Regions from separate parts of the Homo sapiens genome. Here region 1 is linked to region 2. The links come from fine-mapping of genetic effects on gene expression. A gene starts in region 2. The other region holds a variant in brackets. All regions are shown on one strand. Distances are from middle to middle. Region 1 overlaps STRADA (STE20 related adaptor alpha). Region 2 holds the start of STRADA (STE20 related adaptor alpha).

Region 1 (15,004 bases), 32 kb after region 2:
TGAATGTAGTGTTTTGTTTCTCTTCAAATAGTGCTGGCACTGAGTCGGGATTTGTGTGTGTGTTTAGATGCCAGTCTCCTCGTGGGTCTGAATTACCACCTTCACCCCACTCCCATCCCACCCCCAGTTTTCTCTACTAACCTATTTTTCTTTTTCTTTTTTAGACCAATGATGCGAGCTCAGAGTCAATAGCATCCTTCTCTAAACAGGAGGTCATGAGTAGCTTTCTGCCAGAGGGAGGGTGTTACGAGCTGCTCACTGTGATAGGTATGTGCAGGGGCCGTCCTTACTCTCCTGCTTTCTGCTCCAGGGGCTGCTGCAGCTTTCTCAGCAGCCCCAGATGTGTGTACAGCAGAGGCCATCCACTAGTTAGGAGGATTCATGGGCACAGACTTGCTTCTGTGGGTCTTCTCTGTTTTTTTATGCCAAGTATGGGAAGAGATCAAACTTCCAGGAAAGAAGCTCTTTTGCCATCTTTCCTTTGTGGCTGCCATGTTTCCGGTGTCCTGGCCATAGTGAGTCAGAAAGGTTGGCTGAGAAGGAACTGATGAGAGAAAAATCAAGAAATGTGAGCCATGAACATAACAGTTAAATTCTGCTGGGAAAAGGAAAAAAAAAAAAGTAACAGTAGTGAAAAATTTAACATTAAGTTTCTTTTGAAATCAAGTCCCTTTTTTAAAGGAAAATTTTCTTAAAACCTTTTGTTGTTCTTGTCCTTGCGTATGGCATTCCCTTTTTCTTTTAGGCAAAGGATTTGAGGACCTGATGACTGTGAATCTAGCAAGGTACAAACCAACAGGAGAGTACGTGACTGTACGGAGGATTAACCTAGAAGCTTGTTCCAATGAGATGGTAACATTCTTGCAGGTAATAAACCATGAGTGTGTCACATGGAGGGAGGGTGGGCTCTTGGCTCTGATAGGAATTACAAGGAATTACAAAGAAATGAAGGGAGACTAAACGTTCGGAAGTTATGGAAGCTTTCAGTGGAGAATCCTGGCCATTTGGCACTAAGGATTGGGCTGAAATGCTGCTCAGCCTAATTTATATTTCCCTTTTCTTCTCCAAACACTCCCTTCTGGCTTTTTTATTCATTTATTTATTATTTAGAAAGAAGCTAAGTAACTTGCTCATGGCAGAGGCAGGATTCAAACCCAGGCCATCTTGTTCCAGACACAAGGTGCCTGCCCTGCCACCAGTGGCCATCTTCTGGCTCTCAGCCTCCTGTTTGCCTGATGTTCCTTTCTTTTTCTTTTCTTTTTTTTTTTTTTTGAGACGGATTCTCACTCTGTCACCCAGGCTGGAGTGCAGTGGCACGATCTCGGCTCACTGCAACCCCCACCTCCCAGGTTCAAGCGATTCTCCTGCCTTAGCCTCCCGAGTAGCTGGGACTATAGGCGCACACCACCATGCCCGGCTAACTTTTGTATTTTTAGAAAAGACGGGGTTTCTTCATGTTGGCCAGGCTGGTCTCAAACTCCTGACTTCAGGTGATCTGCCTGCCTTGGTCTCCCAAAGTGCTGTGATTACAAATGTGAGCCACCGCATCTGGCCTCTTTTTTTTCGAGACAGGGTCTCATTTTATTGCCCTGGCTGGAGTACAGTGGCAGGACCACGGCTTACTGCAGCCTTAACCTCCTGGGCTCAAATGATTCTCCTGCCTCAGCCCCCCAAGTAGCTGGGACTATAGGCACACCACACCTGACTAATTTTTGTATTTTTTGTAGAGACAGAGTTTCACCATCTTGCCCAGGCTGGTCTCAAACTCCTGAGCTCGAGCAATCAACTCACCTCAGTCTCCCAAAATGCTAGGATTACAGGTGTGAGCCACTATGCCCAGTCCTGACATTCCTTTCTATTCGAGAAGCAAGTAGCCACTCTCTCGTTAAACTGAGAGAGGGGGCAGGCATGGTAGCTCATGCCTGTAATCCCAACACTTTGGGAGGGCAAGGCAGGGAGATTGCTTGAGCCCGGGAGTTTGAGATTGCACTACCAAACTCCAGCCTGGGTGACAGACTGAGTCCCTGGCTCAAAAAATAAAACAAAACAAAACGGAGAGAGACTGTGAGTCTAGTAAGTGCTTGGGAGTTAGACTCTCCTTTCCTGATGCCAGCTTAGAGTCAGGGCCTGGGGCAGTTTTCCTTCAGTAGAGTTAGTTGCAGCCCCTCCCCTCCTTCATTTACAACTTTTTCTGAATTGGTGGTTACCTGATGGTGCTCTAGGACCTGTTCATCTGTTCATAGTAGTTTGGTGGGTCTGAGGATGGAGCAGAAGCCAGTCTCAGCTGGCCTTCTCCTCCATCAACTGTGTTTTCTTTTTCTTTTTTTTTTCTTTATTTGAGACAAGGTCTGGCTCTGTTGCTCAGGCTGGAGTGCGGTGGTGCAATCACAGCTCACCACAGCCTCAACTGCTCAGGCACAGGTGATTCTACCACTTAAGCTTCCCGAGTAGCTGGGACTAAAGGCATGCACCACCATGCTCAACTAATTTTTTGTATGTTTCATATAGATGGGGTTTCGCCATGTTGCCCAGGCTGGTCTCCAACTCTTGGGCTCAAGTGATCTGCCTGCCTCGCCTCCCAAAGTGCTGGGATTACAGGCGTGAGCCACCATGCCCGGCCATGTTTTCTTTTATAATAGAAACATAGTTTTGGGCTGGGCACAGTGGCTCACGCCTGCAATCCCAGCACTTTGGGAGGCCAAAGCAGGCCTAGGCAACATGGCAAAACCCTGTCTCTACAAAAAAATATAAAAAATTAGCTAGGTATGTTGACGTCCACCTGTGGTCGCAGCTACCAGCGAGGCTGAGGTGGGAGGATGACTTGAGCCTGGGAAGTTCAGGCTGCAGTGAGACGGGATCACACCACTGCACTCCAGCCTGGGTGACAGAGCAAGACCCTGTCTCAAAAAAATAAAAAAGAAAACATTTTTGGCCAGGTGCAGTGGCTTGGTGGCTCACGCCTATAATCCTAGCACTTTGGGAGGCTGAGGCAGAAGGACTGCTTGAGCCCAGGAGTTTGAGACCAGCCTGGGCAACACAGTGAGACCTTGTCTCTACAAATAACAACAACAAAATATTTTTTGTTTTCTTATCTTAAAGAGGAATTCTATACGTTGGCCCTTGAAATTGAGATAAGCTTATAACTTCAGAAGTCTTCAGTCAACAGTTTGCCTTCATCATCTCTGAGTCGGTGTGCTGGCACCCTTTGTTGTTGGCAGTTTCCCTATCTGGCAGAGGCAAAGCAGTGCTGGGTCCCTGCAGAGGCAGCAGGGCCTTGTTTTTCCTATGTTGGCAGGCACCTGCTTAGGCTGTTCCCATGACTCTGAGAACACCCAGAAAGTGCCAGGTCCCCCTATTGTCCATGCTGCCATCTTTGTGTTGAGCGGCATCCTTCAGTGCCATTTGGTTCTGACTTCAGCTTCATCATTGCTTCCAGGGCGAGCTGCATGTCTCCAAACTCTTCAACCATCCCAATATCGTGCCATATCGAGCCACTTTTATTGCAGACAATGAGCTGTGGGTTGTCACATCATTCATGGCATACGGTGAGTGGGAAAGGGTTCTTGGTAGAAAGGGGTTATTGGGACTCTGTTGTCAGATTGCCTGTGTTTTCCTCCTCCATTACCTTTCACTGCCTCCATGCAATCCTTTTCTGCAGGTTCTGCAAAAGATCTCATCTGTACACACTTCATGGATGGCATGAATGAGCTGGCGATTGCTTACATCCTGCAGGGGGTGCTGAAGGCCCTCGACTACATCCACCACATGGGATATGTACACAGGTGCGTTCTTAGGCGGCCTTTCCCATGATTACAGTGGGTAGCTATGCCCCTGAGCCTTCAGGTAAAGTGAAGTTTGACTGAAGTTAATGAAGCCAGAGTTTAAAATCAAGGATCTGGATTCTTGCTGAAGATCTCTTTGCTCTGAAAAGAAACAGGGCCCAGCGCGATGGCTCACGCCTGTAATCACAGCGCTTGGGAGGCCAAGGCAGGTGGATCACAAGGTCAGGAGTTTGAGACCAGCCTGGCCAACATAGTGAAACCCTGTCTCTACTAAAAATACAAAAATTAGCCGGGTGTGGTGGCACATGCTTGTAGTCCCAGTAGCTGGGACTACAAGCTGAGGCAGGAGAATCGCTTGAACCTGGGAGGCGGAGGTTGCAGTGACTGGAGATCACACCACTGCACTCCAGCCTGGGTGGCAGAGTGAGACTCTTGTCTGAAAAAAAAAAAAAAAAAAAGAGAGAAGGATCTGGATTCTGACCTTGCCACTGACTTGGGAGATGGTCACTTAGCCTGTTAGTGCTGAAGCCACTGACTTTCTCTTTGCTGAGCAGCTTGGTCTTGAGTGTTGTGTGAGAGGAACATCTGATGTGGACCTTTGTACTCCACTCTCTGCCTCCTTCTTTCTGTGCCCCAGAGTCAGTCTTATGCTGAGAGACCAGGGCGAAGACAGATAGCTTAGTAGATAGTGTCAGGAAATCAGCTCATAGTAGGGAAAATGGTAAAACTGGACCCCTACATAACTCCTCATACAGAGAAGGACTGCAGCTGGATTAAAGGCTTCTATGTAAAATGTGAAACTGTAGACTTAAATAGAAGGAAATGTGAGAAAATGTTTTTGTGACCTGAGGCATGTAATAATTTCTCAACATTTTAGAAGCACAAAACATAAGACAAAAGATTGATGAATTTGATTAGATCAAGAAGATTTCTATCCAATACAAGATACCATGAAAAAGGTTAAGAAACAAGTGACAGAGCAGATGATATTAGCTTTGTCACCACAGGAGATTAGTAACAGGGAAATCTTGCAAATCAACAAGAAATGGACAGCAAAGCAAGAAAAATGGGCCAAAGATATGAAGTTTACAAAAGAGGAAACCCCAAGACAAACCCATCATAGGAAGAGCCACTCAAATCTCGCAATCAGAGAAAAGCAAATGAAAAACAAGATGTCACCTTATACACATGAGACTGGCAGCGGTTGGGAGGCTGGACGAGTCCCAGTGTGGCAAGGACGGGGAGCCTCCTGTCCAGGTGGTGGAAGATGCCCGGTGCTGCCAGTCAGGGTCACAGAACCAGAACCATCAATGCCACTTCTGGATGTACACCCTAAAGAAACCCTCGTGCAGACCCATCAGGGGACATGTTTGGATGTCACCATTCACACGTGTGTTGGTTAGGGGTAGTGTGAGTGTCTGTCCCCAGAAGGATGGATGAGTAAAAGTGTTAGATCTCTTCCCAGAACCAAGGTGACAATTAGAAGAAAAGATGAAAGGTACACAGCTAGCAATACAGATGTGTCTGGAAACTACAGCCCTGAGTGAAAAAGGAAGAATGGGATGCGGAACACAGTACCCCTAGGTACACTTTACAAGAGTCCTACAGATAAGAAGTACAGATTAAAAGCATTCGTAGGAGGTAGGGCAAGAGGTGTTCTAGAGCATACAAGAGCACTGAACAGTCCCAGCACTCTGGGAGGCCAAGGTGGGTGGATCACCTGAGGTCAGGAGTTCGAGACCAGCCTGGCCAACATCGCAAAACCCTGTCTCTACTAAACATACAAAAATTAGCCGGGCATGGTGGCAGGTGCCTGTAATCCCAGCTACTCAGGAGGCTGAGGCAAGATAATCACTTGAACCTGGGAGGTGGAGGCTGCAGTGAGCTGAGATCGTGCCATTGCACTCCAGCCTGGATGACAGAGCTAAATAAGCTTTTAATCTGGTGATATGTAAATGGAGTCATGCTATTTTATGTAGATTTGAAGTTTTTCATTAAAACATAGTTATAGCTGGATGCAGTGGCAGCACTTTGGGAGGCCAAGGGGTGGATCTCTTGAGGTCAGGAGTTCAAGACCAGCCTGGCTAACATGGTGAAACCCTGTCTCTACTAAAAATACAAAAACTGGCTGGATGTGGTGGCATGAGCCTGTAGTCCCAGCTGCTCAGGAGACTGAGGCAGGAGAATTGCTTGAACCTGGGAGGCAGAGGTTGCAGTGAACTGAGATTGCGCCACTGCACTCCAGCCTGGGCGACAGAGTGAGACTCTGTCTCAACAACAACAACAACAAGAACAAAAAACCTGGTTATAGGCCGGTCACGGTGATTCACACCTGTAATCCCAGCACTTTGGGAGGCCAAAGCAGGCGGATCATTTAAAGCCAGGAGTTCAAGACTGGCATGGCCAACATGGCAAAACCCCATCTCTACTAAAAATATAAAAATTAGTTGGGCGGGCCCAGCGCAGTGGTTCACACTGGTAATCCTAGCACTTTGGGAGGCTGAGACGGGTGGATCACGAGGTCGGGAGATCGAGACCATCCTGGCTAACACAGTGAAACCCTGTCTCCACTAAAAATACAAAAAAAAAAAAATTAGCCGGGCGTGGTGGCGGGTGCCTGTAGTCCCAGCTACTCGGGAGGCTGAGGCAGGAGAATGGTGTGAACCCGGGAGGCGGAGCTTGCAGTGAGCCGAGATGGCGCCACTACACTCCAGTCTGTGCGACAGAGCAAGACTCCGTCTCAAAAAAAAAAGAAAAAAAAAAATTAGCTGGGTGTGGTGGTGCA[C/T]ACCTGTAATCCCAGCTACTTGGTTGGCTGAGGCACAGGAATTGCTTGAACCCAGGAGGCAGAGGTTGCAGTGAGCCTAGATTGAGCCACTGCACTCTAGCCGGGTGACAGAGTGAGACTCTTATCTCAATGAAAACAAAAACATGGTTATGTATATGTAAAATACACATATACGTGTATAACACACGCACACAGGAGAGAGCTGGCCAGGTGGAGTGTGTGAAGACCAAAAATTTGTAGCAGGAGGGGCTCCTGCTCTCGACATGACACCCTCCCCGCTTCCCCAGGAGTGTCAAAGCCAGCCACATCCTGATCTCTGTGGATGGGAAGGTCTACCTGTCTGGTTTGCGCAGCAACCTCAGCATGATAAGCCATGGGCAGCGGCAGCGAGTGGTCCACGATTTTCCCAAGTACAGTGTCAAGGTTCTGCCGTGGCTCAGCCCCGAGGTCCTCCAGCAGGTCTGTGTGTGGGCCCAGAGGAGCTCCCCTACCCAACTCATGATTCCCAAGGGAGCCTTCAGGCATTGCCTGGAGTCGGGGGCTCTCAACCTCCCAGTGGGGTAAAGGGGTTCCTGGAGGGAGGGAGCCCTCAGCGTGGGCAGCGCCTGTCCACTGCAGATGGATGTGGTTCCTCCCAGGGGGTCCTAACCTCTATTGGATGAAATTTCAGCTCCCTTTAGGGACCCTTGGCACCCTATGAGAAGAGTGAGCATTTTGGAAATGTTTGCTGCTCTCTGGATCCCTGTGCTAAGCAGGGGCATGGGGCTGGCACTTCCTGCTCCTTACAGAGCATCGCCAGTTACAGGTGGTAAAATACCAGTTAGTCTTCAGTAGCACAGGCAAGGAGAGTCATTAGCAGCAGGTCCTGATGTGGGGACAGCCATCCTTTTCCTCTCTTTAGTTCTACCCTTTTTCTAAGAACAAAGACCAAATGGGGTAATCTGTGGCCTTTTTTTTCTGGCTTAGAATCTCCAGGGTTATGATGCCAAGTCTGACATCTACAGTGTGGGAATCACAGCCTGTGAACTGGCCAACGGCCATGTCCCCTTTAAGGATATGCCTGCCACCCAGGTAAGCCTGCCGCCCATCGGTTTCCTTCTTGCCTGCTTGCCTTCCACAGATGTTCGTTGAGTAGCTCTCACACTCAGGACACAGACTAGGAATACTAAGATGAAAGACCCTGTCTTTTCCTTCAAGAAGTCCCACCCAGTGGGGGATAGTGACCTCACTCTTTGTTTACTTCCTGTGGCAAACCTGGTGGTAAGGGAGGCCAGCTTGGGGAGGGGAGCCCGGGAGCAGGGGTGCAAATGGAGGCCCACACGCTACATGTCTATTTAAAACATATACATTAAGCTAACTAGTTTTTATAAATGCATAAAATATGTTCTGTCCTCCTACTTGGATAAATATACCTGGAAGGTCAGTTTCTAATTTAGAATTCCCACAGTTCTTAACCGCATTCCAGCTGACACCTTTGGAACCCCCATTCTGTAAGTTCAGCTTCTGTTCATGACCCTCCAGATGCCTGTCCTTTGGCCACCCCTAGGATCCAAGGGTGCACAGTCAGTGGCACAGTCTACCCTTGGGAAAACAGACCCAGGGAAGAGGCTTATGCAAGCCTCATTAAATCCAGAAAATGGATTTGGGGTCATTTGGGCAAGGATTACCTGGGTCCCAGCTACTTGGAGTGTGGTCTGGAACTGGGAGGGGCAGGATGCAGGCTCTAATTAAGCCACTTCCGGAACCCACAGGCTGCTTGCCCGGTGGTAGGGGCAGCTGGAGGGTGGCCAGAGTGCAGCCCCCCAGAGCAGGGGCCCAGGGAAGTCCTGGGAGGAGGCAGCCTTGAGTTGGAAGGCAGACAGCAGTCACCTGTGTGGAGGAGGAACTAGGACACTCTTCTCGGCAGACAGCAGCATGTGCAGAGACCCAGAGTCTAGAAAAAACAGATCTGGAGAACAGCAAGGAGGTGTAAATGGTATAAATGGCCAAGGTGCAGTGCTTCTTGGGGACTGCCAGGTGACAGGCACAGAAGGAAGCAAGGGTACATTGTGAAGGGCTTTGATGCCACTTTAGAGCACTGGTTCCTGTCCTAAAGCCTGTGGAGCAGTGCTGAGGATTCTAAGCACAGGAGTGACAGCATAAGATGGCTCATTTACAAAGACCACCCCGGCAGATGGATTAGATCCAGTAGCTCAGTTAGGTGGGTATGGAAGTCTATGTGAGGAATCTAGGAGATCTCAGTAAAATAATTCAGTGACAGAGGATGCTCAGGAAAGAAAAGGTGACTGAGGAGGAACAAGAAGTCCAGGCCTAGAAGCAGCACCATCCACTAGAATTTGCTGCAGCGAAGGAGGGCTTCTGTGGCTGCACTGTCTAGCGTGGGAGCCATGAGACTGTGTGGCTGTCGAGCATTTAGAAGGTGACCAGTGAGACTGTGGGACTGAATTTTAAACCTCATTTAAATCGAAATAGCCACAAGTGGCTAGTGGCTATCACGTTAGTGCAGCTCTAGAGCAATTTCCAGGTTTCTGGCTTGGACAGCTTATGCGGTCATGAGGACTTCCACGAGGACAGCAGTCCCAGGTGGGGCTGGTTTTATATGTGTTGAGTTGGGGTACTTTGGAACAGCCACCCAGCCTGGCCTCCCCTTGGGCATCTTGCTCCCGTGTGGCCTGCTGCAGCGACAGCCCAGGCTGTGGCACTGCAGGGACTGCCTCTCAGACCTCATCGGATCCACCTGAGCATGGCAGACGGCTGGGCTTCAAAGCAGGTTCATCTGACTGCTCCTTCCCTCTAGGGTGAAGACTCTACGGTAAAAGGAATTTGATGCCTTGGAAAGGGAGAGCGGAAACTGTGAGCCCTGCTTTCCAGCCATGGCGAAAGCGGGTACTTTTGTGCAACCCCTCTCCTTTCACGTTGGCCTGGCTAGGGCGGAGCTGCCACGCCAGTGACCAGCGTTTCTTTGGGAAAATTGGACTTACTCCACTTCCACCTTTTCCACTCTTCAAATGATCACATTTGCATATTGGGAACAGTGTATTTGTGAAGAGACTCTCAGGCCTTCCAGGGACCACCCCCCCCCCCCACCCGCTACAGCCCAGGTCCTGGTTCTGTCCTCCCCAGATGCTGCTAGAGAAACTGAACGGCACAGTGCCCTGCCTGTTGGATACCAGCACCATCCCCGCTGAGGAGCTGACCATGAGCCCTTCGCGCTCAGTGGCCAACTCTGGCCTGAGTGACAGCCTGACCACCAGCACCCCCCGGCCCTCCAACGGTGACTCGCCCTCCCACCCCTACCACCGAACCTTCTCCCCCCACTTCCACCACTTTGTGGAGCAGTGCCTTCAGCGCAACCCGGATGCCAGGTATCCCTGCTGGCCTGGGCCTGGGCTTCGGGAGAGCAGAGGGTGCTCAGGAGGGTAAGGCCAGGGTGTGAAGGGACTTACCTCCCAAAGGTTCTGCAGGGGAATCTGGAGCTACACACAGGAGGGATCAGCTCCTGGGTGTGTCAGAGGCCAGCCTGGGGAGCTCTGGCCACTGCTTCCCATGAGCTGAGGGAGAGGGAGAGGGGACCCGAGGCTGAGGCATAAGTGGCAGGATTTCGGGAAGCTGGGGACACGGCAGTGATGCTGCGGTCTCTCCTCCCCTTTCCCTCCAGGCCCAGTGCCAGCACCCTCCTGAACCACTCTTTCTTCAAGCAGGTATCGTAGCCCCTTCGTTCTGGTTCTGGTTCTAGTTCTGGTTCTAACAACTCACAATCCCTTTAGCTTTCTCTCCCCTCCCTTTGAATGAGAGAAACTACCCCGCTTCCGAAGCCCCTGAAAGACACTGCTCCTTCCTCTCATGGAGTTGGCTCCGACAGCCCGTCTGCCACCAGGCCATGGTTCCTTGCCCCATGGTGTCCTGGGACCCAGAGCAACAGGATCTGTCACCCACCTCTCTCTTCTCCCCCAGATCAAGCGACGTGCCTCAGAGGCTTTGCCCGAATTGCTTCGTCCTGTCACCCCCATCACCAATTTTGAGGGCAGCCAGTCTCAGGACCACAGTGGAATCTTTGGCCTGGTAACAAACCTGGAAGAGCTGGAGGTGGACGATTGGGAGTTCTGAGCCTCTGCAAACTGTGCGCATTCTCCAGCCAGGGATGCAGAGGCCACCCAGAGGCCCTTCCTGAGGGCCGGCCACATTCCCGCCCTCCTGGGCAGATTGGGTAGAAAGGACATTCTTCCAGGAAAGTTGACTGCTGACTGATTGGGAAAGAAAATCCTGGAGAGACACTTCACTGCTCCAAGGCTTTTGAGACACAAGGGAATCTCAACAACCAGGGATCAGGAGGGTCCAAAGCCGACATTCCCAGTCCTGTGAGCTCAGGTGACCTCCTCCGCAGAAGAGAGATGCTGCTCTGGCCCTGGGAGCTGAATTCCAAGCCCAGGGTTTGGCTCCTTAAACCCGAGGACCGCCACCTCTTCCCAGTGCTTGCGACCAGCCTCATTCTATTTAACTTTGCTCTCAGATGCCTCAGATGCTATAGGTCAGTGAAAGGGCAAGTAGTAAGCTGCCTGCCTCCCTTCCCTCAGACCTCTCCCTCATAATTCCAGAGAAGGGCATTTCTGTCTTTTTAAGCACAGACTAAGGCTGGAACAGTCCATCCTTATCCCTCTTCTGGCTTGGGCCCTGACACCTAAGTCTTTCCCACGGTTTATGTGTGTGCCTCATTCCTTTCCCACCAAGAATCCATCTTAGCGCCTCCTGCCAGCTGCCCTGGTGCTTTCTCCAAGGGCCATCAGTGTCTTGCCTAGCTTGAGGGCTTAAGTCCTTATGCTGTGTTAGTTTCGTTGTCAGAACAAATTAAAATTTTCAGAGACGCTGCTGGAGAATGGCATTGTGTCTGCGTCAGCTCAGGGGCTACAGGCTGCTTCCTGGTGTGTGTGCTTGCAGGGATGGCCGTGCTGCCCCAGGTGAGAGCTGTCCCACCATCCAAGAGCAGGCCCATGGGTGCTCACTGAAGCTCAGCAGTGACCTCTTACACTAGATAGACCAGTTTATTTGAAAACCTGTAACAGATCTGTCTCTTAACTATCTAAAATTTTAAGACTATGAATTTTAGCCTGTGGTCATCAAACCACTTTGGAGCTAAAAAGTTCCAAAGATTGAGATTGAGGCAGAGGATGCTGGTGGCCTTTGGCAGGAAAGGAGGTAGAAGGGTTTGTCTTGCAACCGGACATGGGTGTCTCCTTACCCTGGGTGCTAGCACCCAAAGAGCAGGAAACCTAAGAACCAGCCCCGCCCATCCCTGCCATGCTGGCTGGCGCCAGCGAGTGTGAGCCAGGGGGTGCAAATCTGAGGCTCCCTGCAGTGCTTCCAGGGCACATGGCTTACCCTTCTCCCAGTCCCTCAGGGGGAAGGCCCTCCCCCAGCTCAGGCACCTCAAATGCCCCTCTAACCTGAAGCTGCACTGAACCATCAGGTGCCCTTGCTTTCCGTTTCCTCCCAAATTTTAACAGCAGTTTAAAGAAGAAAAGTAAGCCTCTTTGGGCAGTGAGAGGCTAAGGTGAAGGGAATGACACTGACCCTGGGCTAGGATGGGGCCTGGGGCGAGTGAGTGTCGGGGGCGGCGGGGAGCATTTCCGGCCCTCCTCCCCCTGCTTTAAACCTCAAGTTCCCTTCGCCTCGCCCCGCCCTCCCCCCCCCACACACACACAAACACAGAGTCTGTCGCCCAGGCTGGCGTGCACTGGCTTCATGTTGACTCACTGTAGGCTCCACCTCCCGGGTTCAAGCGATTCTTCTGCCTCAGCCTCCCGAGTAGCTAGGATTACAGGCACACACCACCACGCCTGGATAATTTTTGTATTTTTAGTAGAGACGGGATTTCACCATGTTGGCCAGGCTGGTCTTGGACTTCTGACCTCGTGATCCACCTGTCTCTGCCTCCCAAAGTGCTGGGACTACAGGCGTGAGCCACCGCCGAGCCAAGTTCCCTTTTTTTGTTTGTTTTTGACGCTGGTCATCAGTTTCCTTTGCTTCTGGATGCCTTCTGCACCTTGCTGTTGGGGCATCCTCAATGCCCATCTGCAGCTCAGCCCACAGGCCCGTCCTGGGCAGGGTGCCGGGGCCTCACCATGCCCAATGGCAGCAAGCCCTGCTCCTAGTACCCCCGGGGCTTCCCGTTTCTTGCATCAAACAGCCCCTTTGGAGAATCTGATGACAGGTGTGGAAGCTTTCCCGAGAGGCAGCCACTTTAGAGGGTCTGACGCTCCCCACTAGAGAGTCGGCCCACAGTGCAGACAAAACGCAGATCTTCCTCTAGAGAGAACAGAAGGCTGGAGAGGAGACGCGGAGCCGGTCCGTGGAGTCCGCCAGCCTGGGAAACAGCTGGTCGCTGGGGAAGCTGCAGCCTCCCTGCTCCCCTGCCAGGCGTCGGGCGAGAGCTGTTCTGTTCCCTGACAAGCGCGTGGGCCGCCAGTGCTATTCCTGCCACAGTGTGGGAAGGCGCTGGGCTAAGGGCTGTGCTTCCCGGAGCTGCTTCTAGCCTGATTTCCGGCCAAGCCACGCAGTCCCTGGTGCCCGGGAAGGCGCCGGCCTCGCCGCCGCTCCAAAGCGAGTGGCCGTCTCTCGCCGGCTGTGCCTCCGGCCTGCTGTGCGGCTGCAGGGAGGGAGCAGCTCTGCGGCCCAAGCTCTGTCACCTCAGCTCTCTGGGCCGCGGCTCCCACGTGAGAAATGAGGTGCGCTTGTTGGAGAGGGGGCCCCCGTTGCTGCCCACAGAATTCCGCCCCAGAAACGCTTGAGTACGTGGAGCCTCGGGGGACGGGTGCTCCGGGAACCACGCATACCGGCCTCCCCAGCCCGTCGCAGGGTTGCAGAGGCGCCGAGGGCTGGGGGGGCTGCCGGGGCTGCCGGGCCCTCGTGCAGGCTCCTCCCCGCAGCCTCGCGGCCGGGCCTGGAGACCGCGTGCCCGGACGCCGCCGCCAGCCTCGTGGGCCGCAAAGGGGCGGGGGCGGCCCCTGGCGGCGGGAGGACTCGGCCGCCCGAGGGACCCCGGGCCAGGCTCCGGGGTCGCCCCGGCTGGGTCTCTGCGGCCCCACAGCTCTGGGCGGGGATGGGGGCGCCGGCGCCTACGCGCGAGGCCAACCGGGGGAAACCGAGGCAGTGAATGGCCCAGGCCCCGCCCGGTTATCCCGGAGCCAGGCCGGGAGCGCCCAGTGTCCCGCGACCGCAGCCGCCGCAGCCTGAACTCGTCCCCTCCCAGTAGGATGCGGAGCGCGGCCCTTCCATCCTGTCCCTGCCACCGTTGCTTCCCCACGCCGGGCCGCCGTCGGGATGGGCAGACGGCGCGGCCGGTACCCGAGGCCTGCGAGCGCGAGGCCCGCGGGGCGCTGCGGAGCCGGGAGCGCGGAGCCGGGGCGGGGGACAGACAAAGGCGGGGACGGCGGCGAGGGGAAGACAAAGCGCGGAGGGGGGTCGGCGGCGGCGCCGGGGCCCCGAAGGCGGCTCCGGGCGCGGCGGAGCCAATGGGCGGGCGCGGGGCGGGGGCCGGCGGGGGCGGTGCAGCGATAAGGCGGTGGCGGCGGCGGTGGCTCGGGGACCACTGGTAGCGGCAGCAGCTCGCGCCCGCGCCCTCCTCGTACCCGTGCGCCCCCGGAGACCGATCCCGCCCCGCGGCCCAGGCCGGGCCTGGTGAGAGCCGCGGGGGGAGGGGCCGCGTCCGGCTCCGGAACCGGGAGAGGCGCCGAGGGGTGTGGGGTGAGGGCCGCCCGTGGGGTCCCGGCGAGTCTGCGAGCCGCTCTCGCCCGGGGCGCACAGGCTCGAGTCCTCGTTTCAGGGCCGGCCCCCGGCTGGGCGGAGCCGAGACCCGCTGGCGGGGCTCGCGGCGTCGGGGTCTGGGGTCCGGTCCTCGCGGGGCCAGGTCGGGGGCCGAGGGGCGGGGCGGGCGGGGACCTCGGGCGCTGTCCAGGGGCTGCGCAGCCTAGGCCTGGACGCCCGGGCGCGGCGCAGGGCAGCGAGGGCCGGGGTCAGGTCGGGGCAGCGGCTTCTCATCGCGGCCCCGCCGGCCCCGACCTCCCCTCACCCCAAGCGGTCCCAGCCCGCGGGACGCACACGGCGGCTGCGCGGGAGCCCCCGGCCCCTCCGCTCCCGCTAACTTTGTTCTTCCGAGGGACGGTGCCACTCGGGACCCCGGCCCCTGGGGAGCAGGGGTGGGGGAGGTGGGTGAGGGGCGGAAGTGGCAAGACCAAGAGCAACAGGAAATGACTTAGGGAAAGTCCCAACCGCAATCCCCCCAGCCCCTGCCTGTCAACACCCCCCACCCTGCAGGCTGGGGCCGGGCTGGCGGGGCCCTCCCGACTGACTTCCCCTTGCAGAACCCAGCGGGTGCCGCTTCTCCACCCGAGGCTTCCACCTCCAACGAGCCATGTTCCAGGCTGCAGGAGCCGCCCAGGCC
Region 2 (15,004 bases):
GTTGAGGCTGGGTATGTTCTTTCAAAGAAATGGCCATGAATATGTGTAAGTATACTTTTGAAAATGAGCTTTCCTAAACTATTGAGAGTTCTTTCCACCTCTTGCGGAACCAACTCTTGGAGGAGAGGCCCATGTATCTGCACGAGCACTTAGCTTGTTCAGATCTCTGCATTTTATAAATGCTTCTTACCAAGAAAGCATTTTTAGGTCATTGCTTGTACCAGGTAATTTTTGCCGGGGATGGGTAAGGGTTGGGTTTTCTGGTGGGAGTGGGGTGGTGGGTATTTTTTGTTGATGCTTTAGTGCAGGCCTGTTCTGAGGCAATAACAAGTTGCTGTGAAAACAGCATGTGCTGCTGCCTTTGTAACTGCATGGAAACTTTTCACATGGGTTTTTCTCCAAGTTAATACAGAAATATGTAAACTGAGAGATGCAAATGTAATATTTTTAACAGTTCATGAAGTTGTTATTAAAATAACTAACATAAAACTTAATTACTTTAATATTATATAATTATAGTAGTGGCCTTGTTTTACAAACCTTTAAATTACATTTTAGAAATCAAAGTTGATAGTCTTAGTTATCTTTTGAGTAAGAAAAGCTTTCCTAAAGTCCCATACATTTGGACCATGGCAGCTAATTTTGTAACTTAAGCATTCATATGAACTACCTATGGACATCTATTAAAGTGATTGACAAAATCTCAGAGTGCCGCCTTGACTTTGTGGAGTTATCCTACAAGAGTATAAGCTCAGAGGAAAATTCTTTCTGTTCGATAAAAGTCAGCACTGAAATGCTTTTCCTTCAAAAGAGTTCATCTGAATATTCCTTTTGTTATTACCATTCAATCATTTTAAAAACATTTTATATTTTTAGAGCCCCATATGTTATTTATGGGCTCCTCCCTGCATTCCACCTCTTAAGACTCCATTAACTCTCCTGTGAATGCGAGGACAAAGAGAGGAGGATGTTGTTTAGTGTCACAAACTGGAAAACCACTAAGTCTCCAATCTCATTTGCATTGCCTGGATGTTTAGCAATGCCAAAATAAGCACTGGACTGTAAGACAAAGACCTGGCTTTTAGTGCCAGCAGAACTAATTACTAATCCTTTGACTTTCGGCAAGTTATTAACCTAATGTGAAGTGAGGATAGTAATTATTTGCCCTGCCTGCTTCACAGGTAGTTGAACACTAAGAGAAAATATATATGTGAGATTGTTTTGTAAACTGTTTAAGCACTTTGCAAGTATAAGGCATCATCTAGGACTGGTCTCCAAGTGATGCATTCTTGCTTTACTCTCTTTTGCTTTTCTTTCTCCCAATGGAAACCAAGCAGATCCTTTCAGAGTTCTTTATCTGCAAAAATTGATAGGGTATTTTTTGAGGAAGAGGGGAGTAGCTTATGATTCTGTTTCCTTAGTAGTAGCAAACCTTTTCCTGTAAAGACCAGATGTGAAACTCCTCTTTTTTTTGTTTTTGAGATGGAGTCTCACTGTGTTGCCCAGGCTGGAGTGCAGTGGTGCAATTTCGGCTCACTGCAACCTCCATCTCCCAAGTTCAAGCAATTCTCCTACCTCAGCCTCCAGAGTAGCTGGGACTACAGATGTGTGCTACCACGCCCTGCTAATTTTTTATATTTTTAGTAGAGATGGGATTTCACTGTGTTAGCCAGGATGGTCTCGATCTCCTGACCTCGTGATCCACCCACCTCGGCCTCCCAAAGTGTTGGGATTACAGGCGTGAGCCAGTGCGCCTGGCCCTAACTCCTTTCTTTAGATGGAATTTAGACCAAAGAAAAACATTGATTTCTTATTCCACCCATTCAGTAGGAATTGGCAATTCAGTAGGAATTGTTTAGAATTGTGTTGTACAAGAATCCAGTGGATTTGGCAGGAAGAGGTGAAACACTGTGCTTTATCATCCCAGGTTCTCATTCCTTACCATTCCTGCCTCCTCTCATTTTGAATGATGTGAAACGATGTAAGAGAGACAAGAGGCCGGGCGCGGTGGCTCATGCCTGTAATCCCAGCACTTTGGGAGGCCGAGGCAGGCAGATCACATGAGGTCAGGAGTTCAAGACCAGCCTGGCCAATATGGCAAATCCCCGTCTCTACTAAAAATACAAAAATTAACCGGGTGCGGTGGCACAAACCTGTAATCCTAGCTACTCAGGAGGCTGAGGCAGGAGAATCGCTTGAACCCAGGAGGCAGAGGTTGCAGTGAACCAAGATTGCACCACTGCACTCCAGCCTGGGCAATAGAGCAAGACTTCCGTCTCAAAAAAAAAAAAAAAAAAAGAGTTATACCCATAGGAGTGTCTTCTGTTACAGACTGCTAAAACAGAACAGTTCTGAGACAATATGTTTTCTCTACCCATTTGTAATGGCTGCAAGAAGTTTAGCATCTTTTCAGACAGTCTCTCTAATACTCGGTTCCAAAAGACCACATGTGAAAGACCCTTCAGTAGAACACTGCTAGAAATTTTACTTCTCTGTTTATACTCTGTTGCTTTGTGAGTTTACCAAGTTTGCTCCTGAGAGTGGCATCTTATTTTGAGAATGAGAGCATGTGAGGGTAGCCCTTAGCAATGTCAAAGCACTCGATAAAATCAAAATGATGTGGCCCAGCACAGATGGCTCACACCTGTAATCCCAGCACTTTGGGAGGCCGAGGCTGGTGGATCACCTGAGGTCAGGATTTTAAGACCAGCCTGACCAATATGGTGAAACCTCGTCTCTACTAAAAATACAAAAATCAGCCAGGCGTTGTGGCGTGCGCCTGTAGTCCCAGCGACTTGGGAGGCTGAGTCAGGAGAATTGCTTGAGCCCAGGAGGCAGAGGTTGCAGTGAGCCCAGATCACGTCACTGCATTCCAGCCTGGGCAACAGAGCAAGACTCCATCTCAAAAAAAAAAAAAAAAAAAATCAAAGTGATGTATGTAAGATCAAATGAGAACTCATGTGCATACAGGTCCCACAGTTTCAGGGGCATATTTCTTTTTTTCTTTTTTTTTTTTTTTTTTTTTGAGACGGAGTCTCGCTCTGTCGCCCAGGCTGGAAGTGCAGTGACGCGATCTCTGCACACTGCAAGCTCCGCCTCCCGGGTTCAGGCCATTCTGCTGCCTCAGCCTCCATAGTAGCTGGGATTACGGGCGCCTGTCACCACGCCCGGCTAATTTTTTTGTACTTTTAGTAGAGACGGGGTTTCGCCGTATTAACCAGGATGGTCTCGATCTCCTGACCTAGTGAACCACCCGCGTCGGCCTCCCAAAGTGCTGGGATTACAGGCGTGAGCCACCGCGCCCGGCCTTCCAGGGGCATATTTCTATAAGTCCCTACTTGGATGTAGCTAAACTCCTCCCCCAGTCTTGGAAGTTAGGACGGTCTAAATCTGTGTCAAAGCTCAGAGCTGGCAAGAGCGAGTGTTCATTACCTGATGGTATATATCCGCGTTTTGGATACCCCCTCCTGCGCACGCGGGGGATAAGTCACTGAAAAACCTAGTCTCACAGGAGTGAGGCTTAGTTCATCGCTTCCTCATTTCTCAAGCTCTGCATAACCTGGCTTGGACAAACCTGATAGGTTTCCACAAACGGCTTCAGCTGTGGATGAGGAAGGCTTCGGGGGAAAAAAAAAGATACTGAGGGGACAAGATCGTTTTCATTAGTTGAGCTATTTTCCTTGTTTTACAAATAGTGGGGAGCAAAGAAAGGATGGGCTTCCCCTTTGCAGCTTGTTGTCTGGTGCCCGAGAGGCCAAAGTGAGGGGCATTTGAGATGTCGTCCAAGAAAAGTGCGAGGCGGGTTTTCCATTAGAAGTCCTACCACATGAAATGAGAAAAACACAATTCTCAGGAACAGCCAAGTTTGCCTTTCTCTGGTCCTTCATTGTTGAAGCCACCTGCTTCCCCCTCCTGCTGCGGGGGCGGAGGCTGTAGGCGGAAGCGCTGCGCGGCGGGAAAGACAACGGGAACTGAGAACCGCTCTCGGCGCGGCGGCGGCTGCTAGGGCCTGCCGCAGCCGCGGCCACTCGGAAAGGGCGGGACTTCCCCGCAGGGCGGGGTGGGGCGGAGCGCTCTATCAGTCCTCCCGGTCGCCCCACTGCGCATGGCACGTTGCGTACTCCCCTCCCAGCAACCGGTCTGGCGGCGGCGCGGCAGTAAAACTGAGGAGGCGGAGCCAAGACGGTCGGGGCTGCTTGCTAACTCCAGGAACAGGTACCTGCCTGGCGGGGTGCCTGGTACGCTGCCGGGGCCAGTCCCTCCTGGCTCTGCCACCGATTCCATCTCCCCAGGCCCGGGCCTTCGTCGGAGCGGCCATCCTGGGCTCACCTCACCCTCCACGGGCCCCCTTTTTAACCCGCGTCCTCGACTCCCGCAATGAGGCGCCGCAGCCCGAGAGCAGAATAGGCTTGGGCCTGGCGGGGAGACGCTGAAGCGGAGTTGCCGGGCGAGAGAGGCGGGCTCCTGCTTTCCCCTTCCTCCCCACCCCCTAGGACTTCCAGGTGGGGAACCTAGGGCTGGGTGCCGGTTTGTCCTGTTCAGGCAGAGTGGCGGCCGACCCCGGTCCTGGGCTCCCCGCTGTCCCCAGCCGCCGCGCACTTTGGGCTGACAGGCAGCGGGTCAAGTCCTCGTAAGGACACAAGATCCAGATGACTCCCAGAATCGGCCTAAACGAAGAGCTCATTGTCTTTTTGTTTTCCAGAAATGTTTTTTGGGTGCCTGCAGGGGATTTGGGCGCCGGAGATGGGGGTTGGGGATAAGGAAGAGAGCTCGAGGGAGGGGCAGTGGGTAGGTAAAATTGTTCATAGTTCTCAGGAAATAGGGAACTAACCTCTCTGCCCAGCCTTCTCCTGTATCCTAACATACTTTAACTTGACTTTCCCGGAGAAAGAGCCGTTGGAATTTGCCCTTTTCTTATTGTAATATCTGTTCAAGTAGAAGCATGTTCCAATACGTATATGCGACGTTAAGACAATTCTTCATTGACACTCATACCTTCCTGAAGACACCCAGGACTGTTTCTTGTCCCTGAGAGTTAAGGAAGAAACCAAATTTGATCACCTGCCAAAAGCCTGTGAATTCAGCCTTTAGTTACAGTGCTGAACTGGTCAAATCTGTCCCCTACTTTTTAATCAGATTTCTTAGAGGTGTTTTGGCTGGAATGCAGTGTTTATAGTTGTGGCCCCAGAAATGGAGGAAGTTTACTCTGGTTTTTAGAGCGCAGGCTTTGGAACAGATTTAATTAGTCCCCTACCACTTATCTGTGTGACTTTGGGCATTTAACCTCCCTGCACACCTGAATTTCCTGATCCGTAAAACAGAGATGATAATACTTGTGAGCTGCTCATGAAGCATTTAGCACAGTGCCTGACACGTAGGAAGTTTGCCATAAATGTTTGCTGGGTTTATTATTTTCTCTCTTTATTTTTATTTTAATTTTTTTGAGATGGAGTTTCGCCCTCGTCCCCCAGGCTGGAATGCAATGGCGCGATCTCCGCTCACTGCAACCTCGGCCTCCTTGGTACAAGCAGTTATCCTGCCTCAGCCTTCCGAGTAGCTGGCATTACAGGCACCCCCCACCACACCTGGTTAATTTTTGTATTTTCAGTAGAGACGGGGTTTCACCATGTTGGTCAGGCCGATCTCTGAGGTCCTGACCTCAGGTGATCCACCAGCCTCGACCTCCCAAAGTGCTGGGATTACAGGCGTGAGCCACCGCGCCCGGCCAATAAAGCTATTTCTATGTCTGTCCACTAGTAATATTGCTTTGTTGTGTGTGTGTGTGTGTGTGTGTGTGTGTGTGTGTGTATATATATATATGTATGTGTATATATATATGTATGTATGTATATATATATATATATATATAGTGTTAAATGTTTCTGATAGGCTGGGTACCGTGGCCCACCTCTGTAATCCCAGCACTTTGAGAGACTGAGGCAGTAGGATTGCTTGAGCTCCGGAGTTTGAAACCAGGAACAGGTACCTGCCTGGCGGGGTGCCTGGTGCACTGCCGGAGCCAGTCACTCCTCGCTCTGCCACCGATTCCATCTCCCCAGGCCCGGGCCTTCGTCGGAGCAGCCGTCCCGGGCCATATAATTATGTACATTATATGTATATACATATAATTATGTACATTATATGTATATACATATAATTATGTACATTATATGTATATATGTACATATATACATAAATATATAATGTATCAATATGTATACATAATATATACACATAAAATTATATATGTATACATATTAATACACTATGTACATATATAATATATACATATATGCATAATATATAATATACACATACATATGTATTTCTTAATTTTTGATAAGTGTGGATATATCTTTCGAATGATATCCATCTGCCCTCCCCTTCCATTAGAATTTACATTTTAAGGACATTTACATTTGCATTTTAAGGAAATTTGAAGGGAGCAGAGTGATGATGTTAATGTCATACAGATAACCGGGCATGGTGTAATCCTAGCACTTTGGGAGGCTGATGCAGGAGGATTGCTTGAGTTCAGGAGTTTGAGACCAGCCTGGGCAAGTTCATCTGTACATGATTCAATCTGAAAATAGAAAAGTCCTTCATAATTTGTATACCATTTACTGCTAATCACTAGGTAGAGCTACTCTAAACCAGCTCAGATGAAATTTATTAGTAAGATTTTATCAAAGAAAATACCTGTGTGCAGTTATTAAAATAATTGTATAGGGGGCTATAAAGAAAAATACCAGTCTCATCTCTATCTCTCTCCATCCCTGTGTCTATTTCCCTTTTTTTTTTTTTTTTTTTTTTTTGAGATGGAGTCTCGCTCTGTTGCCCAGGCTGGAGTGCAGTGGCACGGTCTTGCTTCGCCTCCCAGGTTCACGCCATTCTCCTGCCTCAGCCTCCCAAGTAGCTGGGACTACAGGCGCCCGCCACCATACCCGGCTAATTTTTTTTGTAATTTTAGTAGAGATGAGGTTTCATCATGTTAGCCAGGATGGTCTCGATCTCCTGACCTCGTGATCTGCCCGCCTCTGCCTCCCAAAGTGCTGGGATTACAGGCGTGAGCCACCGCACCCGGCCTGTTCCCCATTATTATTATTATTATTATTATTATTTTGAGATGGAGTGTCACTCTGCAGCCCAAGCTGGAGTGCAGTAGCACAATCACAGCTCACTGCAACCTCCTGCCTCAGTCTCCCGAGTAGCTGAGACTACAGGTGCATGCCATCACACCCTGCTAATTTTTTGTATTTTAGGAGAGATGGGGTTTCACCATATTGCCTGGGGCAGTGTGGAACTGCGGAGCTCAGGAGATCTGCCTGCCTTGGCCTCCCAAAGTGCTGGAATTACAGGCAGAGCCACTGGGCCTGGCCTCAATTAATTTAATCATTTTTTGTTTTAGTCCTTTAATGATGGACTTCTGTAATTCTAAACAACATGTTTAGACTTTCCACTGACAGGAGAGACAGAGAAATGACTAGTGAAGCTTCTCCTTATTTTTCCAAGAGAGTAAAGGTCATGCTGAATCTCACACCACCCCCTCCTCACTGCCTCCCAACTTTTTCTTTTTTTCATTTTCTTTTTCTTTTCTCTTTTTTTTTTTTTTTTTGAGTCGGAGTCTCGCTCTGTCGCCCAGGCTGGAGTGCAGTGGTGTACTCTCGGCTCACTACAACCTCCGCCTCCCGGTTTCAAGCAATTCTCCTACCTCAGCCTCCCAAGTAGCTGGGAGTACAGGTGCCCGCCACCATGCCCGGCTAATTTTTGTATTTTTAGTAGAGACGGCGTTTCACTATATTGGCCAGGCTGGTCTCGAACTCCTGACCTTGTGATCTGCCCGCCTCGGCCTCCCAAGGTGCTGGGATTATAAGCGTGAGCCACCGTGCCCAGCCCCTTCTTTTCTTTTTTCTTTTCGTTTCTTTTCGTTTATTTTCGTTTTTCTTTTCTCTTCTCTTTTCTTTTCTTTTCGACGGGGTCCCTCTGTGTTGCCCAAGCTGGAGTGCAGTGGCTCAATCTCAGCTCACTGCAGCCTCCACCTCTGGAGCTCAAGTGATCCTCCCGTCTCAGCCTCCTGAGTAGCTGGGACCACAGGCACATGCCACCACACCTGGCCAGTTTTTTTATTTTTTATAGAGTTGGGGTTTCAAACTCCTGGGCTCAAGTGATCCACCCACCTCTGTTTCCCAAAGTGCTGGGAACACAGGCATGAGCCACTGTACCCAACCAGCACCTCCAAACTTTTGATAGTTGAATCCCTCTATTTTTACACTTGTTGGTTACCTTTGTAACCTTAAATATTGTACATAACTTTCTATTTGTTATCCTATCAACTTTCAGTATTAACTTTACCTTCTTAGGAAGATAGGGGTATTAGCTTCCCCAGTCATTCCTCTATCTCTTCCCTGTTCCATTTCCCATCTTCTGTCAGGTGAAACTTTACTTTCATATTATCAAATTTGAAGGCATTTACATTGTGTTCTATAACTGTAATTAAGTTTATCATGCTTTGTCTATAGACTTAAAATTTATAAGCTGATGATGAGCACTTAACAGTATTGTAAGTATTATTCACAAAACAGCCAAGTGTTATTCTGCACTGCGGTCCACTGTCCTAACTTCCTTCTCATTCAAGGTCAAGTGGATTTTCTTTCTCATTCCTTGCTGAACTATCTCAATTTTTTTTTTTTTTTTTTTTTTTTTTTTTGAGATAGAGTGTTGCTCTGTCACCCAGGCTGGAGTGCAGTGGCATGATCTTGACTCACTGCAACCTCCGCCTCCCAGGTTCAAGCGATTCTCCTGCCTCAGCCTCCCCAGTAGCTGGGACTACAAGCATGTGCCACCATGCCCAGCTACTTTTTGTATTTTTAGTAGAGACAGGGTTTCACCATGTTGACTAGACTGGTCTTGAACTCCTGACCTCAGGTGATCTGCCCTCCTCAGCCTCCCAAAGTGCTGGGATTATAGGCGTGGACCACTGTGCCCAGCCATGCTATCTAAAAATTGTAACACATTTAAGTTTGTTTCAAATTCGGACTTTGACTTTTAAAATATAGTTTTAATTTCTGTTGGAATTTTTGGTTGCCTTTCTGCTTGATTTTTTTTTGGTGGGGGGGGCGTGGGGGGAAGAAATAGGCCACTTTCCACCCTGTCCGTGATATTTTTCATCCTTTATAATCTGTATATTTCATGATATTATTATATTTTCTTCAACCTGCCAACTTCATGTTCTAGTTTTGACTGATTCCTTTCTTGATCAGCTTCGTAGCTATCATCTTGAGATATCTCTTCAGTGGACACACCACTTTATTATTATTTTTTTTTTCTTGGGGCAGAGCCTCACTCTGTCACCCAGGCTGGAGTGCAATGGCGTGATCTTGGCTCACTGCAACCTCTGCCTCCCAAGTTCAAGCAATTCTCCTGCCTTAGCCTCCCGAGTAGCTGGCATTACAGGCACCTGCCAACATGCCTGGCTAATTATTGTATTTTTAGTAGAGACAGTGTTTTGCAATGTTGGGCAGGCTGGTCTCAAACTCCTGACCTCAGATGATCCACCCGCTTCAGCCTCCCAAAGCTCTGGGATTACAGGAGTGAGCCACCGCGCCCGGCTGGACACACCACTTTTTATATCTCATAGCTTCCTTTTTAAATTTTAGCCTCATTTTACTGGAATATTATTTGGAGTACATTAAAATAATTTCATTAAAAACCGTGTATGGGGCTGGGTGCAGTGGCTCATGCCTGTAATCCCAGCACTTTGGGAGGCTGAGGCGGGTGGATCACCTAAGGTGTTTGAGACCAGCCTGGCCAACATGGTTAAGCCCCGTCTCTACTAAAAATACAAAAATCAGCCGGGCGTAGTGGCACATGCCAGTAATCCCAGCTACTCCGGAGGCTGAGGCAGGAGAATCCCTTGAACCCAAGAGGCAGAGGTTGCAGTGCGCCAAGATCGCACCATTGCACTCCAGCCTGGCCTGGGCGACAGAGCCAGACTCCGTCTCAAAAAAAAAAGAGGAATAGAAAAGCTGCTGACTGGGAGCTCTGTGGATTTAAGACTCATGGACATGAGTGGGCAGTTACGCCAGGGGCTTGTTTTCAGCCCCACTTCTCCTTCCCTCATTCCTTATTGCGCAGTTTTGTTTCAGAACCCCTTAGGATTGTCTGCTGGGCATATCTGCCGTCTCCTCTACTATACTCTCCATTCACATTCTAGCCTGCAGCTTTCTCTCCATTTCCTGAGACAGCACCCTTATGTCCACTTTTCAACTCCTAGAAATTTATTGAAATTTCATCTAATAGCTCCTCTCATTCTGTCCTCAGATATATGGTTATTATTTGTATTCCTTTGCCTTAATTGGGACCTTGGGAGAGAGGTGAGATTCTAAAATCTTAAATCAGAAACCTGAAATCTAATCTTTCTAATTCTCTGAAAAAGTTAATTTTAAGGTCTCTCCTAGAAACATAAGCCATTATTATAAGCATCACTATCAGAGGGAGAAAGATATTTGTCTCAGGTGTCAGACGGATGTCATTAACCTCATTTTAGAGTTATTAACGTTGAGATTCGGCAAGCCAAAGTATGCTGATCAAGTTAACACAGATGCAAGAACGCAATTCATACCATGCTCGTCTTATTTCAGAGTATGTGCTTTTTTTACTACGCCATATTGTCACCCTTAAGTATAAATCTCTGACTTCAGGTTACTCTTAATGAGCCTTTAGCCATGTTTTAACCTTATTGATTATTCTTACGATTTGTATAGTAACATTATGGGTGAAATTAGCTCACTCTTTTTTTTGAGACAGAGTCTCGCTCTGTCACCCAAGCTGGCGTGTGCAATGGCACGATCTCGGCCCACTGCAACCTCTCCCTCCTGGGTTCAAACGATTCTCCTGTCTCAGCTTCACAAATAGCTGAGCTTACAGGTGCCCGCCACCATGCCTAATTTTTATATTTTTTATTAGAGACGGGGTTTCTCCCTGTTGGTCAGGCTGGTCTTGAACTCCTGACCTCAGGTGATCCACCTGCCTTGGCCTCCCAAAATGTTGGGATTACAGGTGTGAGCCACCGTGCCCAGCCAAATTTGCTCTTTTCTAGATGTTAACCTTTCCTAATAGCTTCTATTTTTCTAAATTAATCTTTACTATCTTTGAAACATTTCCAAGTTCTTTGTGTGTCTTTACCATTTTCTTACATAGGACTGAAATACACATGTGGTAAATGCTGTTAGGGAAAGATTAATTTGGTCAAGGTTGAAGTTAGTTTGGCAAAAATTCAGAAAAAGCAAAAGTATCCCTGATTCTTTTTTCTTTTTTTTTGAGACAGGGTCTCACTCTGTCATCCAGGCTGGAGTGCAGTGGCGCAATCTCGGCTCACTGCAACCTCTGCCTCCCGAGTTCAAGCGATTCTCAGCCTCCCAAGTAGCTGCAATTACAGGCCAGTGCCACCATGCCCGGCTAATTTTTGTATTTTTTATAGAGATGGGGTTTTCACCATGTTGGCCAGGCTGGCCTCTAACCCCTGACCTCTAGTGATCCGCCTGCCTCAGCCTTGCTAAGTGCTGGGATTACAGGTATGAGCCACCGTGCCCAACCTATCCCTGATTCTTAATCCAGAATGACATTTCCTCTGCCTCTTCTCATTTAGTGAACACAGTAATAAAAGCATTTTTAGAACATTCTTATTGAAAACAGTGACAAGTTTCTTAGAGCTTTTGATATAAAATAAAGGCTATTCAAGTACAGTTCAGTAAAAATAATTTTATTGGAGGCAAATAGAGTAAGACCTAGGCCTGTAGCCATCCATTGGCCAGCCTTAATCCAGGAATAGATTTAGAACATTTAAAATAATTTCCTTCAGGTATCCCTGTATTGGAGGTTCCCAAGAACACCCTCAGGTTCAGTAATTCACTAGGAGGACTCACAGCACTCAGCATATAGTCACATTCATGGCTAGGATTTATTTCAACAGAAGAATACAAAGAAAAACCAGCAAAGGGAAACAGCACATGGGGTGAAGTCTGGGGGAAACCAGGAGCAAACTTCCAAGGATCCTCCCCAGTAGAGTGACACAGGACTCAAAGCAAGAAGTTGTGGTAGCATGTGTGAAATGTTATCAACCAGGAAAGCTCATTAGAAACTCCATACCCAGGATGGTCATGTAGGCAGCCTGTGCCTGGCATGTATCAAAACTGGACTCCCAGAAGGAAAGCAGGTGTTCAGCATAAACCATACTGTTTGTACAAATAGTTTAGGCATAATAAGCCACTCTTGTCATTTTTAGGAAAATGGGAAATCTCTCAAAATCCAAGTTCCCCAATGCCAGCCAGTGGCTAACCACGTAAGCAGACTTTTTAAAGGATAAGAAGTTAGGCCTGCTATATTAACCCTTCTTCTGCAGAATCCCAGTCTGTAAATACTATTTCTTTAAATTGGTCTTTTGAGAGATATGGGAATGGGAGTGGGTTGAAGATTGTATTCTTTGAGCCAGTTCCACTTGAGATGAAAAATAAGATAAACAAGAATAGAAAAGCAAAGATAAAAGGAAGAAGAAAAAGCAAGAGAACTGAATACAATTTTTAAAAGGAAATAAAAAAAAAAGATTGTATTCTGACAAATACCAGGATTACTGCTGTTTTATTGTCAGTTATATATGACCCATATGTCTTAAACATTTAGTAGTGAACATTGAGGAGTCTGATAAAGATTCATACCTGAACAGAAGGGTATCCTATCTCTTTGCAAAAGTGTGTCTAGCTTGTGCCCATTGGCAGGCCCAAAATCTTCTTAGGAAATGGTTTTTAGTTGGAAGGCCGAGGTGGGCGGATCACCTGAGGTCAGGAGTTTAAGATTAGCCTGGCCAACATGGTAAAACCCTGTCTCTACTAAAAATACAAAAAAACTAGCTGGGTGTGGTGGCGGGTGCCTGTAATCCCAGCTACTTGGGAGGCCGAGGCAGGAGAATCGCATGAACCTGGGAGGTGGAGGTTGCAGTGAGCCGAGACCACACCATTGCATTGCAGCCTGGGCAACAGCACGAGACTCTGTCCTTCCCCAAAAAGAAAATGGTTTTTAGGCTGGGTGTGGTGGCTCATACTGTTAGTCTCACCACTTTGGGAGGCCAAGGTAGGAGAATCACTTGAGCCCAGGAGTTCAAGACCAGCCTGGACAACATAGTCTGTTACCTAGGCTGGAGTGCAGTGGTGCGATCGTGGCTCACTTCAACCTCTGCCTCCTAGGTTCAAGGTATCCTCCCACCTCACCCTCCCAAGTAGTTGGGACTACAGGCACATGCCACCATGCCTGGCTAATTTTTATATTTTTGTAGAGATGGGCTTTCGCCATGTTGCCCACACTGGTCTTGAACTCCTGAGCTCCAGAAATCCATCTGCCTCAGCCTCCCAAAGTGCTGGGACTACAGACATGAACCACCACGCCCGGCCTACACAAGCAATTTTTTTTTTTTTTTTAACTAGCCAGGCAGCTTCTCACACCTGTGGTCCCAGCTATTCAGAAGGCTGAGGTAGGAGGATTGCTTGAGCCCAGGAGGTTGAGGTTGCAGTGAGCCGTGGTTACACCACTGCTTTCCAGCCTAGGTGACAGAGCAAGACCCTGTCTCCAAAAAAAGAATGGTTTTTAATATGCCACTATTGGCCAGGTGCGGTAGCTGACACCTGTAATCCTAGCACTTTGGGAGGCCGAGGCGGGTGGACTGCCTTAGCTCAGGAGTTTGAGACTAGCCTGGGCAACATGGCAAAACCCCGTCTCTACTAAAAATACAAAAAATTAGGCCAGGCGCGGTGGCTCACGCCTGTAATCCCGGCACTTTGGGAGGCCGAGGCGGGTGGATCACAAGGTCAGGAGATCGAGACCATCCTGGCTAACATGGTGAAACCCTGTCTCTACTAAAAATACAAAAAAAAAATTAGCCGGGTGTGGTGGCGGGCGCCTGTAGTCCCAGCTACTCAGGAGGCTGAGGCAGGAGAATGGCGTGAACCTGGGAAGCAGAGGTTGCTGTGAACCGAGATTGTGCCACTGCACTCTAACCTGGGCAATAGAATGAAACCCTGTCTCATAAAAAACAAAAGAAAGAAAGAAAATTTGATTTTATTTTTAAATTCCAAAATTTTTCCAGACCATAGAAACTTTTTTTGCAGATAAAAACATCTATCTGCCTCTTTACACTAATTTTCTCTTTCTATTGTAGACTACATGAGGATATGGACCTTTTTTCCTCTTAAATTTCTTTTGCATGATGCTTTGTGTTTAATACTATTAAATATGCATTCTAATCATGTTTTTTCAAATCTATATTTTTAAAATTTTGTGACAAGATAAATGAGTGATTCTCAGCTGGGGTTGGAAAAGGAGCTTCTATAAGAATATCAGGGCCGGCCAGGCGCGGTGGCTCATGCCTGTAATCCCAGCACTTTGGGAGGCCAAGGCGGACGGATCACGAGGTCAGGAGATCGAGATCATCTTGGCCAACATGGTGAAACCCCGCCTCTACTAAAAAAATACAAAAAATTAGCTGGGTGTGGTAGCGCATGCCTGTAATCCCAGCTACTGGGGTGGCTGAGGCAGGGGAATCACTTGAACCCAGGAGGCGGAGGTTGCAGTGAGCTGAGATCACGCCACTGCACTCCAGCCTGGTGACATGGCAAGACTCCGTCTCAGAAAAAAAAAAAAAAAAAAAAAAAGGAAAGAATATCAGGGCCAGGTGCAGTGAGTCACGCCTGTAATCCCAGCACTTTGGAAGGCCCGAGGCGGGCAGATCACGAGGTCAGGAGATCGAGACCATCCTGGCCAACATGGTGGAACCCCGTCTCTATTAAAAATACAAAACTTAGCAGGGTGTGGTGGCGCACGCCTGTAGTCCCAGCTACTCAGGAGGCTGAGGCAGGAGAATCGCTGGAACCTGGGAGTCGGAGGTTGCAGTGAGCCAAGATCACCGCTGCACTCCAGCCTGGCAACAGAGCGAGACTCCATCTCAAAAAAAAAGAAT

What was found. PIP is the estimated chance that this variant, and not a neighbour inherited with it, causes the effect.
Region 1: its variant is fine-mapped to the expression of STRADA in whole blood (TOPMed, PIP above 0.99).

Annotation. Positions count from the first base shown.
Region 1 is chr17:63,699,269-63,714,272 of GRCh38, reverse strand. It overlaps STRADA (STE20 related adaptor alpha), which reads left to right. Exons shown (of 13, transcript NM_001003787.4): 5 at 165-267; 6 at 746-867; 7 at 3,437-3,545; 8 at 3,659-3,782; 9 at 6,855-7,026; 10 at 7,534-7,638; 11 at 9,691-9,932; 12 at 10,226-10,268; 13 at 10,522-11,441. The coding sequence ends at 10,674. LIMD2 (LIM domain containing 2) reads left to right here and starts at 14,148. Exons shown (of 5, transcript NM_030576.4): 1 at 14,148-14,241; 2 at 14,925-15,004. The coding sequence starts at 14,975. It overlaps LOC729683 (a long non-coding RNA gene), which reads right to left and starts at 13,935. Exons shown (of 1, transcript NR_046273.1): 1 at 11,588-13,935. RefSeq lists silencers at 3,650-3,944, 12,170-12,249, 13,440-14,399, 14,490-14,949 and enhancers at 12,670-12,769, 12,565-13,149, 13,150-13,735. The variant C/T (reference allele first, on the strand shown) is at 6,568.
Region 2 is chr17:63,730,952-63,745,955 of GRCh38, reverse strand. STRADA (STE20 related adaptor alpha) reads left to right here and starts at 4,157. Exons shown (of 13, transcript NM_001003787.4): 1 at 4,157-4,215. CCDC47 (coiled-coil domain containing 47) reads left to right here. Exons shown (of 13, transcript NM_020198.3): 13 at 1-701. RefSeq lists silencers at 3,875-3,994, 5,498-5,666 and an enhancer at 5,532-6,031.